2 separate regions of the Homo sapiens genome follow, and region 1 is linked to region 2. A link means that fine-mapping ties the variant in region 2 to the expression of a gene that starts in the linked region. Tissue or cell type: whole blood. Region 2 holds a variant in brackets; the other region holds the start of a gene. All regions are shown on one strand. Distances are from middle to middle.

What was found. PIP is the estimated chance that this variant, and not a neighbour inherited with it, causes the effect.
Region 1: it holds the start of ISL2, and the variant in region 2 is fine-mapped to the expression of ISL2 in whole blood (INTERVAL, PIP above 0.99).

The regions. Positions count from the first base shown.
Region 1 is chr15:76,332,510-76,340,616 of GRCh38, reverse strand. ISL2 (ISL LIM homeobox 2) reads right to left here and starts at 3,844. Exons shown (of 6, transcript NM_145805.3): 1 at 3,676-3,844; 2 at 2,650-2,839; 3 at 2,103-2,365; 4 at 58-341. The coding sequence starts at 3,733. RefSeq lists enhancers at 1-479, 677-886, 907-976, 2,524-3,335, 3,761-3,810 and 2 more.
Region 2 is chr15:76,221,497-76,229,603 of GRCh38, reverse strand. It overlaps ETFA (electron transfer flavoprotein subunit alpha), which reads left to right. Exons shown (of 12, transcript NM_000126.4): 11 at 3,675-3,755. Among named protein-coding and RNA genes, the nearest start is that of ETFA, 86 kb to the left of the region's middle. The variant C/T (reference allele first, on the strand shown) is at 4,068.

The DNA.
Region 1 (8,107 bases), 110 kb before region 2:
CCGCGGCGGAAGCGCAGCCCCCACCCGACTCGAGCCTCCGGCCCAGCGGCTGCTCACCGTCTTGTCGCTGTGCTGCTGCTGCTGCAGCTGCTTCATGAGAATGGATTTCTTCTTGTCCTTGCAGCGCTTGTTCTGGAACCAGACGCGGATGACCCGCGGGCTCAGGCCGGTCATCTCCACCAGCTGCTCCTTCATGAGAGCGTCGGGCCGCGGGTTGGCGGCGTAGCAGGTCCGCAGAGTGTGCAGCTGCTTCTCGTTCAGCACAGTCCGCACGCGGGTCGTCTTCTCCGTCTGCTTGTGCACGTGCGGGCGCAACGCGGGCTGCCGGCCCGACCCAGCGTCTGCCAGGACAGGGTGAGGCCAGAGGTTAGCGAGGGGCCGCCACCCACCCGCCCCGAGCCCAACCTCCGGGTGGCCCAGCCCCCCGGGGCCCGATTTCGTTTCTGTTTTATTCTGTTTGTTTCGTTTAATTGTTCGTCTTCCTCTCCATCTGTTCGCCTTACTCGGAGAGAGCTGTGCATTTTCGTTCTTTCTCTCGCTCCCGGGCCGGACTGCCCCGCAGCGATCTCTCCCGAGCTCAAGCAGGGCGCGGGAGCTCGGCGACAGGCCGCTGCGGGGAGGGAGTGGCTGCTCAGGGATGTGCCTCCTCCAGTCGCAGGACCCTCGGAACGAGCGAAGCCCTCCGGAAGAAGTCGGAGTTTCAGAGGAAGAGGAAAGAGGCTTGCCCAGGACTCTGGAGAGGGAAAGGGACCGACGTGGACCCAGGGCGAGGCGCTGCCCAGGGGACTGGGTGGGAGGTGCGAATATGCCGGGGGCCTACGAGGGCCCTTCCCCTCCTTCAGAGCCCATTTGGACAGGGCCAGGCCACATGTGTAGAAGACTCATCCACGGTTATGGACGGGCCTCCAGGGCTTGCAACAGTTCCTTCCTGCCCGCCCTTGGGCTTCGGCCCCTGTCTCCTTCCTCAAGGCTCCAGGTTCCCCAGCCCAGTGGCCTCCCACCGACCAAGGTGCTGAGCAGCCGCTGGCACTCTCCTCGCTTGGCCCCAGGTTCTCTCCATCCCGGGGAAACAGTGACTGATTCCAGAGCCTGCACCCTGAAGCCCGAAACAAACAAAGGGGAGCCTCTCCGAGATCCCAGATGGGGGTGCACTGAATACCCGCTTGCTCCCATTTCACATCTCCATTTGATCCCGACCCATATATACCGTGGATCTGTACTGCACCATTTCGGTTTATGTTCCCCTCTACGAATTTCTAGGTCTGGACAAATATTTACAAATAGCCCATCCAGCCCAGTTTCCTCTTTCTATAGGGAGGAAGTGAAGATCCAGAGAGGGGAGGAGCGGGGCAAGGCCACACAGCACCCAGAGGCCCAGCCTGGTCTACGGATCTGTGCTGCAGGCCTATGGCTACCTGGGGGAAACTGCCTTGCCTGGGGTGGAGGCACCTCTGTTTCTGTTCAGCCGTACCTGCCCATTATACACTCAGACCCCATCTCTGGGCAGCTGCTGATTAGGACCCAGAATATTCCAGTGACAGTCCACTATGCATTGATACTCCCCCTCCCCCAGAAGAACCTGGCTAAATTGTTCATCAAACTGGGCCTCAAAACAAGATGGCAAAAACCCCTCTTTGTTGGGTTCTTGGCTCCTGGCTGACCAAGCTCCTGCCCAGCTCCCAGTTTGGAGCTGTGTTACTTACACACATACCCCTGGGCAAACCTTACCCTCTGACAATAACACATATTCCTCCAAGAAATTCCTAATACAAGCCCCAAGACGGACACCACTTAAGATTCCCTGTTGTCATCCACTCTTCTGCTCCTAGCACTGTGCCCTGCATGTTCCTGGTCATGGAGAACACGATTCTGCACAATTCTCCGTGCTCACACACTCATACACACGCAGTTTCTCCCGAGCACACGAGAATACACACAGCCTTGTTCCCAGCACACAGTTCCGCACTGATACAGAAAAACACTATCCCGGCAGACGGAACCACACACAACTGACAACTTCTCGTTAGGGACACAAGCGTACCCCTACACACACGCACGCACATACACCCCGCTCACCCCGGCACAGGCCCCGGCGCGCTTACCGGGCAGATGCAGGCCGCGGGCGCCGGGAAGCGGGCCGGGGCTGCGCGGGCTGCCGGCCGCGGCGCGCTCGAGCAGGAGGCCGTGGTCGGCGCGGCAGAGCAGCTCGTGCTCCCGCAGCGAGAACTCGTCCCCAGGCAGCAGCTGGCGGCTGCACACGGAGCAGCGGAAGCACTCGATGTGGTACACGCTGTCCCGCGCCCTCATCACCAGGTCGCTGCTGCTGAAGCCCACCTGGCACTTGGCGCACTTGATGCCGAACAGCCTGCGGGCCCAAGGTGCGGCGGTGTCAGCGCTGGGCCTGCGGCCGCCCTCATCTCCCTGGCTGCTACGGCTCCGGCGCGCGCCCAGGACACTTTGTGGCCACCAGGAGACTGCGGTGACCCGCCTGCGGGCATTCCCGGGCCCGGGGGAGCGCTGCGGCACCCGTGCGGGATGCGGATGGCCTTCTCCCTGGGCAGGGCCGGGGCGCGCGGGCAGGCCGCCATCCCCAGTCCCGGCCCCGGCCCCTGCGCGCGGTGGCCCAGCCCGCGTTCCCGCCGGCCTCACCTGACATAGTCCCGCTTGCAGTAGGTCTTCCCGTCTCTCACGAAGCACGTGCACGTCTCGTCCAGGTACTGGCTGCACTCGGCACACTTGAGGCAGGCCGCGTGCCACTCGAGGTCGGGCGACACCCGCAGGATAAACTGGTCGTGGATCTGACTCCCGCAGCCCACGCACATGGCCGTCCCGGGCTTCTCTGCCGGGGAAGGGCGCGGGGCCGCGTCAGGCCTGACTGCCCGGACCCAGGCCGGCCTCGGCTACTCCAGCCCCAACCCAACCCGCTCGCTCTCTTGCTCTTTCTTTCAAGACTTGCGACCATAAGGAAAGATGATGAGCTCTCTAAAGGTCCAGGGCATTGGAAACGAAAAACCAGTATCTTGTGGATTGCTGAAGGTTTCTTCTGTCCCCCACCCCAAATATTTCGTTATTACATTCATTAATGACAGTCGTTTTGTCGACGTGTCTTGAAACTAAACGCAAACACGAAACTAAGAAGAGAGTAAATACACAGGCACTGCGGACGCCTGGATATCAACACCTAACGGTGCTGTCCTGGCATTTCCGCTCACACACTCCCACTCACAGCGGCTGCCTCCTATCCCAACACAGACACATCGTCTTTCGGCAGTCCCCGCTCATCCTCTCAGACATTTCTTAGTTTAAATATCCCAGAGCAAGCGAAAGAAAGCTTCCTAGCTTTGAAAAACCGAAAGGCAAACAAACAACAACCAAAAAAAAAAAAACCCACATCCCTAAATCAAACCTAATTGCCTTTGCGCAAAACAGAAGCAGATTTCGCAGCCCGAAGTCATCCTAGCCGGCTTGAGAAATAGTGTTTACTTATAAAATAAAACAACAGGATTCCCAAAGATAAGCAGTCCTGCAGGAGACATGCATTCGTTTTTCCTCTCCTAAACTATTCTGACAAATAGAAGCCACTTGTAGAATCCACTAAACATTTTTCTGCATTAGAAATTTTGCATATTAAGCATACACACACACCCCACCCCACACACACACAGAAATACTTACTCTTGGAATGATCACCCATAGCACCCAGAAAAGGATAATGAAAAATAATATCCACCATGCAGAAAAAGAGATGTGCGCAAAGTGTGCGGCCAGGGGCAGAAGGACGAGGGTCGCGCGCCCGGCCTCGGCTCTTTGCTAACTAACTCCTACTGCCCCGCGGAGTTGAAGGAGCGATTCCGCACCGGCCCGCACGCAGCATGACGTCAACACGCACTAGCCCCGGGCCGGAGCTGGGGGCGGGACCTGTGGCGTCACGAAGCTTCCCCAGAACTGCCGGGGATGCGGGGGAGGTGATGGGGATCCAGGGGCTGATGGGCGGGGTGGGTTGGGTTGGAGGCTGGGGGTGAAGGGAGATTGGCTGGGAGGAAGTGGGCCAACCCTGATTGGCCCGGAGTGAACAATGGAGTGCAGCCCCCCCACCTCCGAAACCTACAAGGATCCTCTCTCATGCCCCGGGCCTGGCAATCTGGACTGGACCTTGCGTCACCGCCGAGCTGGCTCCGCGGCCGTTACAACTCTGAGCTTCCTCTTGGACTTTCGGGGCGGTTTTCCCAGGCGCGCTGGAGCTGGGTGATGGATACCTGAGGGTGGAGATGGCTCTCCTTTAAGAGCTCCCTTCTTATATAAATTAAAAAAAAAAAAATTAAACCCACTCTCAGGACGAGAGAGCCGAGGACAAGGGGGATCCGTTTGGACGTGACCGTCATCGTCCAGCTGGTCACCTTTCTCCTCTCATGTGCCTTTGTTCTTCGGGTCCAAGCTAGAGAGAGTGTAGAGAATGACCACCTGGGTTCTGATAAACTCTATTTAGACTTTCCTATCCACACACACGTAGAAAACTTTAGATTGGGGCATTACGTGGGTTGAGCCAGAACCCAGATCCAAAAGCGCTCACCCGGGACTGGGACGGGTCCTGACTCCATCCTTGCTGCTGCTGCCGCTGCTGCTGCCCCTCCTCCCTCTCCTCCACCACCACCTCCTCCTCCTGCTCCACTTCCTTTTTTTTGTTGTTTTGTTTTGCTTTTAATTTGTTGCTGTTGTTGTTTTAAATGTAACATGGACTTCCCCGCCCCCTCATTTTTCCCCCATCCAAATGGCATAGCTCCTTTTAGGAACACTGCTGGGGTCGATTGCGTGTCCAACTTCCAAAATAAAAGATTTTTCTAAACTCTTGTCCTTCATTAACAAACCCACTGCAATGCAAATAATCAGAAACGAACGTAAGGCGCTGGGTAATTTACAGTGGTATCTGCGAGGCGGCGGCTCGTTGGTCCTGAGAAAATCTGAGAGCTCTGAGCACAGTCCAGGCATTCTTTCAAAGAAATCGCTGTGGGTTTTGTTTGAAAGGGTTCAAAGACCGGCCCATGAATTATAAATAACATTTATCCAACCATGGTGTCTGTTCTTGTTTTCCCATTAAAAGGAGTACCAAGAACTTGGTGTGCGCCTGGGTGGGGCGCGAGGTGAAACGCCTGCGGATAAAGTGTCTCCACCGCCATTCCAGACCCTGCCCAGACCTTCGGGCTTGTGGGCCTGAGGGCGCGGTCGCTACTGCCGTTCTACTAAGAGCATGAGGTTGGTTGGCGTCGAAACGGATGCAGCCGAGGGCGCAGGCCGAGGCTTTGCAGAAGGCTAGGGCGAGGCCCCGAGTGCACGCTAACATTATTCGACCATGGTCCACGGTGAACGTTCCTCACCGGCCCCGCGCTGGGGCGAGCGCTTTAAGCCTCGTCCAGTAGCGTCCGGCTTTTGAGCTCCGCCTCCACCTTTAGGAGGTCTAGTCTTCTCACCGGTCCGGCTTTTTTTTTTTTTTTTTTTTTTTTTTTTTTGAGATAGACTCTTGCTGTGCCGCCCAGGCTGGAGTGTAATGGTGCGATCTCGGCTCACTGCAACCTCCGCCTCCCGGGTTCAAGCGATTCTCCTGCCTCAGCCTCCTGAGTAGCTGAGATTGCAGGCGAGCGCCACCACGCCCCGCTAATTTTTGTATTTTTAGTAGAAACCGGGTTTCACCATGTTTGTCAGGCTGGTCTCGAACTCCTGACCTCGTGATCCGCCCACCTCGGCTTCCCACAGTGCTGGGATTACAGGCGTGAGCCACCGCGCCGGGCCACCGGACCGGCTCTTGTTACAGTTTACCACCCGTTGGCCAATAGGCCATTTCTTGCGTCTTTAGTCAACAGTCCCCCAAAGAGCGCTCACCCTGAGTGTGTGCGGGCAGGTCAGGGGTTGGGGGATGCTGCGTTTGAATGAATGTGTTTATGTAAATGGGGGACAAGAGCGAGGGGGTGGGTATCTGTGCCTGAGGCTGTGCCAGGACACCTGTGTGACCTCAGGCATCTTATTTTAATTCTCCTTCCCTCAGTTTCCTCATCTGTAAAATGGGGGTATAATAATTGTAGCTATCTCTATTACATAATAATTAAATAAACTGTTCTCTGGAAAGGGCTTAGAGCAATACCTAGCACAGAGTAAGTGCTCCATATGTGTTAATTATGACAGTTATGACTGTGGCTGTATCTTTATGTTGGGAGCCTCTGCCCACCCTGCCTGCGTGTGTCTGGATGGGGAGGGGAGGTCTAAGTATGTCTCAGTATGTGTCATCTGATGATTTCTTTGTGATTTCGATGTGTGCTTGCTGTGTGTGTGTCTGCTGTGTAGATGGGGTTTGGAGATGTGTGGTCTGTGCATAGACTTTGTGTACAGGTTATATCTGTGAATGTGGGTGCACAGTCAGAACTGGGAGGGGACTCGGTGTGTGTGTCTGCATGTGGAGTGAGGAGGTGCGTCTGGCCCAATGGCCCTACCCTTAGGTGACCCTGGACTAGGCCTGGCTCCCAGCACCTACTAGCTCTTGCTCGCCAGGCCAGGAGCAAGCACATCTATAATTCAGGGGTTCAGACAGCTGGCCAGGAGGGGGCAGCCCCAGGCTGGAATCGTAGTCCCAGCTTTTAACCGTCTCCTGCCCAGAGAAACTCTTCCTTCCCGTCCAGAAAAACCTGTCCTTTGAAACTTCACTAGGGAGGTGGGGATTGGAGAGGGTCACCCCTCCTGGGATGCTAGGAAGCCAGGTCAAAACAAATATTTGTTCAGGGCCACCATGTGCAAAGTCCTTGTTGTTAGCCTATTAGGTCTTAAAAGTAATGCCATGTGGTGAGTAGTATTGGGCCCCTCCAATCCTCGAGGAAACTGAGGCTCAGAGAGGGGAAGTTACTGCCTCAGGTCACAGGTTAAATCATTGCTGGCATTGAACCCAGGTCTATCTGGCTCCATCTTGCTTGCTTTTTTCACTGTGCCATTGAAGAGCCACATGAGTGTAGCTCCATCATTCACCCATTTCACATCTCTGGAGCTGTAAAACCAGGGATCCATTTCAAAATCACTCCATGTGTGACTTCTGGTCACAGCCACCCCTGAGAGACCAGCACTGACATGGGAGAAGAAAACACCTGCACCTGCTGGGCACGGCCACAGGCACCATTGATGTGGCCCTACCCTGGTTCTCTGCCTCCTGGCTGCTCCCTTCTCAGGTATGGAGGGGCCACACACTCTCCACATCCCAGGCTGGCATGCAGGAGACCTGGGTGCCTCCTATCCTGGGTCTTAGATCACTTTCTCCTTATCAGGAATGGCAGCTTGAGCTCCATAGCTATGCTTTATCCCATAAAACTAGCCTGTACTGGGGAGAGTTCAGAAGCACAGAGAAGTCTCCCTGATTATTTTCTCCCCAAAACCTCCTCTACCACATCACTTACAAAGGCACAGCCCCATGCACAATGTCCAGCCAACACAGAGGAAGCTGTTGCTAGTGTGGGAGCATCAGTCCTACTGTGAATATCAGGAAGGAAACTGAGGCCTGGTGACCTGTTACCCAGCATGTGATGGAGATGGAGCCGGAAGCCAGGTCCCCTAACCCAGGCCAGACCTCTTCCTGCTGGACTCCCTCTGGATGATCTTCTGCTGTCCAGGGCTGAGACCTTGCTGCCCAGCTTAAGTCACTGGACCAGGCTTCTCCTCTTGCTCCAGGCTCCATCCCCCTCCATTCTCCTTCTGCCCCACTCCCAAAGGCTTTTACTCTTCTCCAAAGGTAGTTGGAGATGTTGAATACAGCAGGCCAGAGACAGCCTCAGCATCCACATCTTCACCCACCACAGGCATCTGAGAACTTGCTTTTGAGATAGGGATGGAGCACCATGTTTCAAAGAAGAAACTAAGGCCTGGGGGCAGGAAGAAACTTGGCAAGTCAAGGTCAGGCTTCAGGCTTCCTGACATCCAAGACCCATGCTCTCTCCCCAGCTTTGCCTGCCTCCCCAACCCCAGATTCCCTTTGAGCAAACAGGTACCCACAGGCACTGCTGGGCCCCTCTCACTCCTTCCTGAGTCCCCTTCTCTCTTCCCTAAGTTACTGAGCACGTGCTGTAGCTGGGGCTCTGGG
Region 2 (8,107 bases):
AAAGAAACTCCAACACCAGCAGCCTTAAAGTATATTTTTAGCCAGACCAGTTCAGACATAGCTAGAATTCTGCTTCTCTAAAAATAAAAGATTCTGCCTGTCAAGAAGATACCAGTGAAAATTCTCACCCCATGCCAACAGGGCTGGATTGTGGGAGAGACACTAGGTAGTGTACGTCAGAGCAAATAGGGAACAGTTGAAGTAAGGAGACTGGTGTTGGGGGTCAGCCAAGACTTTGTATCTCCATCTAGTCAACAGATGTTTATTAAGACCATTCCTTGTACTAGAAGCTGGGAATGCTTAAAAAGATATAGCCCTTGTTGTCACTGTCTTATCCTGTTGTCTGTGTCGTCCTGTGTTGTCATAGCCCCATTATCTGCATAGGAGACAGTCTTTAGTTCTAAAATGGGATATTAGAATGGTTTAAATCTGACAGTTGCATTCCCTGCAAGCTGCAATTTTAATTAGAATCCTGGTTTAGTTGAAGGAATTCAAGATTTGATTGTTAAATCAAATGAATCTAATGAAAGCACTTTCTGAACTAATACACAGTAATATGGTTGAGGCCACGTGCAATCCCAGCACTTTGGGAGGCCGAGGCGGGCAGATCACCTGAGGTCAGGAGATCGAGACCATCCTGGCTAACACGATGAAACCCCATCTCTACTAAAAATACAAAAAATTAGCTGGGCATGGTGGCGGGCGCCTGTGGTCCCAGCTACTTGGGAGGCTGAGGCAGAAGAATGGCGTGAATCCAGGAGGCGGAGGCTGCAGTGAGCCGAGATCGCGCCACTGCAGTCCAGCCAGGGTGACAGAACGAGACTCCATCTAAAAAAAAAAAAAAAAAAAAAAGTAATAATAATAATATGGTTGAATACAATCTATGCATTTCAAAGCTTAGTAAGGAGGAAGAACTTGAGCTTGTGAGGAGCTATTGAGAGAGCTTTGGATACAAGCAAGACTTTATCATAGTTCTTTACAATTGATTATTTAGGAATATTATTTTAATAATCTGAAGAACAATAACCAGCCCCACATCTTTTTTGTTAAATACTGTAGTGGTTCCTTGCCCACAGTTATATGCTCTCTCTTTAAAAATAACTTTTAAGGCAGGCATAGTGGCACTGTAATCCCAAGGCACTGTAATCCCAGCGCTTTGGGAGGCCAAGGCAGGAGGATCACTTGAGTCCAGGAGTTGGAGAGTGGCCTGGGCAACACAGTGAGAACCCCATCTCTCCAAAAAATGAAAGAATTATCTGAGCATGGTGGTACACCCCTGTGGTCCCAGCTACTCAGGAGGCTGAGGTGGGAGGATCACTTGAGCCCAGGAGATCAAGGCTTCTGTGAGCTGATTGTACCACTGCACTCCAGCCTGAGCAACACAATGAGACCCTGTCTCAAAGTAATAATGATAATAACAATTGTTATATAGTATAATGAAAAAGCTTTCGGATGATTAAACTCCCAGATGTCTGACTAAGTGGCCTCTAGAAGAATAATTTACCATCAATAACTAAACAAATCTCTGCTTATCGCCGTGAAGCAGGTTACACATTCCCAAAAGAGAAACACGCCAATGCAAATCAACACCTGCAATTCAGAATGTTTGTTCTTGTGCCTTTGGATTTGAGGCTCACGTTTGAAACTTGTTTATTGTCTCTGACTATGCATCTTAATGTGTGTAGCATGTTTCTCTGGATTAGCAGTTACCTGGACTATACCATGTTCCAATCTTAGACATTCTGGCATCTTCTGCACATCTCTCTGAGGAACCCCTCTAAGGGAAATACACAGATGTTGGATATCCTGTAGCCTGTATTTTAAGTCAGGCTACATCAAAATACTTAATGTATTTTTTAATACCAGCTGTTTTCACAACATACAATGCCAGGTAGGTAGAAACTTAATTTTACTTCTAGAGATTTGAATTATTTTTAGTCCACAATCTATTAAAATAATACTACATTAGAGTCTAACTGCAGTGGTGTTAGAAGCATCTGTGGGGAATACCAAACTATTTGTACTGATAAACTATCTGATATTAATAAAAGAATGATTTGAATGATAGCTTTTCCTTTTTTTTTTTTTGAGACAGAGTCTCACTCTGTCACCCATGCTAACATACGGTGCACAATCTTGGCTCACTGCAACCTCCACCTCCCAGAGTTGAGCGATTCTCCTGTCTGAGCCTCCCAAACAGCTGGGAGTACAGGTGCGCACCACCACACCTGGCTAATTTTTGTGTGTTTAGTAGAGGTGGGGTTTCACCATATTGGCCAGGCTGGTCTCGAACTCCTGACCTCAAGTGATCCGCCTGCCTCAGCCTCTCAAAGTGCTGGGATTACAGGCATAAGCTTTTATTTTTTATTGTAGAGATGGGGTCTCCCTGTGTTGCGCAGGCTGGTCTTGAACGCCTGGGCTGAAGTGATCCTCCCACTTCCACCTCCCAAAGTGCTGGGATTATAGGTATGAGTTACCATGCCTGGCCTGCATTTAAGAATATTTTTATAGCAAATAAGAGAAATGTTTGACAGCTTTTATAAGAGATATAAGTAATTTGCTTCTTTTATTAATCTATTTGCTATGTACATAAGGACTTAAAGCTGTTTAACGTCCCTTACTAACAGGCTGACAAGATACTTTAGCTTTCATATTGTTAGAATATCCCAGAATAATTGTTTTATTTTATTCTATTGTATTTTATTTTATTTATTTATTTATTTTTGAGACGGAGTCTCACTCTGTCGCCCAGGCTGGAATGCAGTGGCGCGATCTCGGCTCACTGCAACCTCCGCCTCCTGGGTTCACGCCATTCTCCTGCCTCAGCCTCCCGAGTAGCTTGGACTACAGATGCCCGCCACCACGCCCGGCTAATTTTTTGTGTTTTTTAGTAGAGACGGGGTTTCACCGTGTTAGCCAGGATGGTCTTGATCTCCTGACCTTGTGATCTGCCCACCTCGGCCTCTCAAAGTGCTGGGATTACAGGCGTGAGCCACCGTGCCCGGCCTATTTATTTATTTTTATTTTTGTTGAGACAGAGTCTCACTGCTGGAGTGCAGTGGCGTGATCTCTGCTCACTGCAACCTCTGCCTCCCAGGTTCAAGTGAGTCTCCTGCCTCAGTCTCCCAAGTAGTTGGGATTACAGGCACATGCCACCATGCCTGGCTAATGTTTGTATTTTTAGTAGAGACAGGTTTTACCCTGTTGGCCAGGCTAGTCTCGAACTCCTGACCTCAGGTGATTCACCCGTCTTGGCCTCCCAAAGTGCTGGGATTACAGGTATGAGCCACTGTGCCTGTCCTCCAGAATAATAATTTTAAAATAATAAATGAAGGACAAAATAATTTGCACTACAAAGGCTGTGGATTTGGGTATAGATTTGTTACTTTTTCACCTAAAATCAAATATTTTTTTTGTAAGTCAAAAGAAGAACTTTTAAAAAATAATGATTTTAAACTCTTTAATACTGAGATGGGCTAGATGTGGGTAAGAGAGAATTTTATTACATTCCAACCTGGAAATTTCTAATAAATTTACAGTGTTGACACAGATGCCTCAAATCTTATTTGGTAGACATTTTAAGAATATTAATATATTGGAAGTTAAAATAGAACTATCAGTCTGTGTGAAATGTTTTCTTGGTAAAAGTCAAACTCTTTGTTTTTATTTCACAGACAATTGTGGCAATTAATAAAGACCCAGAAGCTCCAATTTTCCAAGTGGCAGATTATGGAATAGTTGCAGATTTATTTAAGGTAAGCTGGCCTTGAGAGAAATTGCTATTATCTAGATTGTCATCCGAGAAACTCTCAGAAATGGTTAGGGATGAAGCTATTAAAAGAAAACATTGTGTGTTTGTGTGTCTGTGTTTGTATGTATACTGTTAATATATGTACACAATTTTGACCTACTTAAAGTTAAGTTGCTCTAAGAGTAGATATGTGTTGTTTATATAGAGCATTATAACTTTCCTTTTAAGAAAGAGTCCAAATTGTCTTTAAAATATCCACATGGCGGCCGGGCGTGGTGGCTCACACCTGTAATCCCAGCACTTTGGGAGGCGGAGG[C/T]GGGCGGATCATGAGGTCAGGAGATCGAGACCATCCTGGCTAACACAGTGAAACCCCGTCTCTACTAAAAAATACAAAAAATTAGCTGGGCGTGGTGGCAGGCGCCTGTAGTCCCAGCTACTCGGGAGGCTGAGGCAGGAGAATAGTGTGAACCCAGGAGGCGGAGCTTGCAGTGAGCAGAGATCGTGCCACTACACTCCAGCCTGGGTGACAGAGTGAGAGACTCTGTCTCAAAAACAAAACAAAACAAAAAAAACCCACATGGTTTTTGGCATCTCATGTGCTAAGTTAATGCACAATGTGAAGTGATTCAAGTAATTTATAACCTGGAATCATATTTGGCAGGTACCCTAAAGAAATTAACATCAAACCCCCTTATTCAGGGATTTGCCAAGAATGCTAGAGCTTTTCAGGGGAGAGTAGGCACCCATATCCAGCTTATCTGTCTCAATAGGAATGCTCTGCTTGCTGTGTTTGTGGGTTAATGGCCTTCCTTAGCTGACGAGTGTAGGGAGAGCACTTATTTCTCACTCCTCACACTCTTCACTTTTGAGTGTTCCTTCTCTCTTGCCGTCACCTCCATATTTGACCTTCCCATGAGAAAAATTACTTTCATGATATTAATTAGTGAATTACAGGTGATGAGCACCTGATACTCATTTGGCTACATTTAAAGGTCATGACTCATGCGTGGCCTGGTCTCTTCTTTTTCCTGGGTCTGCCTACACGTTTCTAGGTTATCTTATGCAGAAATCACTTATGCAGGAATTGACACTCTGAAAATAGCATCCAACCCTAGGAGAAGTGGGTTTGCTGGGGTGAGGAACCCCTCATGTAGAACCACAGCGAGGGGCTATGGGCCTTAGTGGAGAGGCTTCAGCCTGAGAACAGAGCTACAGGTGGTTCCCTCAGCAAGAGGACTGGCCCATTTCTGTGACTTCACCAGCACTGCATATGATCTAGAGGAACCTAGTGAGTGTGCTTGGAGAGTACATTTGTACTTTGAAGTATGTTCATGCTCAGTGAAGGATGGAAATAGGACCCTTGAGCCGATTACTCCGTGATGGCTCAGACTGCATGCAAAGACTAGGATGGGGCTCTTGCTCTGGCTCAGTGTTGGGCATACTTCCCCTCAGAAGGCCCCCGCCAAAGAGCTTAGATTTTGGCTTGGGAAAAACATTACCCCTCTTCAGTAACCCTGAAGCTCTGTATTTGGTATTTGGGATTCAGGTAGGTCAGCTGCTCATGTTGCCTGGCCCAAGTGTGTAAGAACAAACAGTAATGCCAGTCATTTTCCCACTAAGATGTTCCAGTGGGAAGGGGGGCTGGTATGAAAAAGAGAATTTTTTTTTCTCTGTGTAATGATAACTTTGTTCACGTAGTAAGAATTCAGTTCTTACTATTGGTGTGAATAGGGGGTAAATATTATTTTTATTTAAAAGCAAAATTAAATACTTTCTGAACCTCATCCATGTTTGCAAGTAGATGTCTACTGTGGTTGCCTTTTTTCCTCAAGAGAATATTTTAATAAACTTGTAAGTAATTTTGTTACATTTTTCTGTCTGCCTGTGTACTATGTATTAAAACTCACATGGGGGCTTTCATGATAAAAAGATAAACTGTTAAGCAGTTGGAAATTTTCAGTGTTCTTCCAGTGGACACCTGCCTTGGGGCAGGAGCTTCTTTGTAGTCATTATTGATAGAATGGGGTCACACACATTGTGCTCCTGCATTAAGGGCAGCTCCAAGGTTTGGCATGAGACTATGCATGTGTGTGGACACGGAGGTTTCTCAGTGAGAAAGAGTCCTAAGACAGTGAAGTGGAACGAGGCCTTAAAAATCATCTAGTCAGCTGACTTCCAGTTTCAGGTTCTCAGGCTCCTTTTGGTATTTTAGGAAGCCCACATTGGACTAGAGAGAGACTTCAGACCAAGATATCATGTTTATGTTCTTTTAGCTAGAATTGTGTTAAGGCAATGACTATCTCCTACAGCTTAGAAGTTCTGAAGTACATGGCCAGGAGCGGTGGCTCACACCTGCAATCCCAGCACTTTGGGAGGCCGAGGCGGGTGGATCACCCGAGCTCAGGAGTTTGAGACCAGCCTGGGCAAGATGGTGAAACCCTGTCTCTACTAAAACTGTGAAAAACACATTAGCCGAGCATGGTGATGCATGCCTGTAATCCCAGCTACTTGAGAGGCTGGGGCACAAGAATCACTTGAGCCTGGGAGGCAGAGGTTACAGTGAGCCAAGATGGTGCCAGTGGACTCCAGCCTAGGCAACAGAGCAAGACTCTGTCTCAAAAAAAAAAAAAAAAAAAGTTCTGAAGTACAGTTATATATGTATTTGATTAATACAAAAGTAGAGAAGTTAATCACTCCTTAAAAAATGCAGTTTGGGAGGCCAGGCACAATGGCTTATGCCTGTAATCCCAGTACTTTGGAAGGCCGAGGAAAGGCGGATCACTTGAGTCCAGGAGTAGGAGACCAGCCTGAGCAACATGGTGAAACCCCATCTCTACAAAAAATACAAAAATTAGCTGGGTCTGGTGACGTGTGCCTGTGGTCCCAGCTACTTGGGAGACTGAGGTAGGAGGTTCACGTGGGCCCAGGAGATTGAGACTTCAGTGAGCCATGATTACACCACTGCACTTCAGCCTGGGCAGCAGAGTAAGACCCTGTCTCAAAAAAAAAAAAAATTCAGTTTGGGGGAAAAAAACTAAAGATTATAAAAATATTAAACATATGGCAGACTCCTCTTTGTTACCATGTGAGTAACACAAGCCAGGTGCATTCTTTTTAAGTTGCCTGTCCCAGAGAGATGTGATTTGGGACAATCCACAGGTTATGGGCACAACTAAGCCAGGGTCCTGCTTCTGTTCCCCTTCTCTCTCATTTCTCTGCCTCTCTGGCTCAGCAGGTACTACAGCTGGGTGGCTCACCACTACTATTGTACCTTGGATAAGGTGCAGTAAAAATCGCACCTTTGACAGACTCTAGGAACCTACAGAGTACGCATGAAGTTGTTTTCTCAGCTGAAATCAGAATGAGCTTATTGTAGGTGAATACTGTAGTAATTCTGACACAAGAGCACAGACAAAGTGGTTTGGTGAATATATTCCTTACTGGGGCGATCTCGTTTTTAAAAAATCAAATATTTAAAATATTTTAAAAATCAAATATTTAATACTTTTGATTAAAAAATAAAAAATACAATATTTGTATAATTATATTTCTTAATGTTATATATTTTATATTTTTAATATTTTATTTTTATTTTTTGTATTTTATGTATTGTAATTATATTTTAAAATTATAATTTTAAAAAATATATTTATATAACATTAAGAAACATATAAGGTAATATCTTTATATAACATTAAGAAATACAATTAATTATACAAATTATGGGTGAGAATTAATTAGCATTACCTATTTTGGCTTATGATCTAAAGAAAATAGAAGTCAAATAATAGCGTACAGAAAGGACTTTTTTAGCCTAATTTTTGTGTGAAAATTTTAAATTGCAAATTGTATCATGTATAACATGTATATACAGCTGTTAGACTAATAATTCCCTAGGTGATATTTTGCTCACCAAGTAGAACCGTATCTGGAGTAAAAATGAATATGCATAACATTTTATTCTCTTATATTAATTGTTTTGCTTGACCCTTCAACAATCATTAGTTATAAAGGACAAGTTTGTTTTTCCCTCAGAAATAATATGTTATAGTAATTAAGAGCTTTAATTCCAATTCTGCCTTGGCCACATACTAGTTAAATTATCTTGGCTAAGTTATTTAATCTCTGGACATCAGCTTGCTTGTAAGTAATGTAAATATTACACTACCTCTTTAAAGGTTGTAATGAAGATTAAATGAGATTATACTGTACCTAATACTAATAGAGTCTGTGACAAATATTAGCCTGCCTGTTCTGTCCAGGTACATAGTAGGTGCTGGTAAATATTATAATTGTAGTCACAGTGATAGGGCATAGGGCACCACCTGTTTTTTGTTTGTTTTAGTATAACAGCTT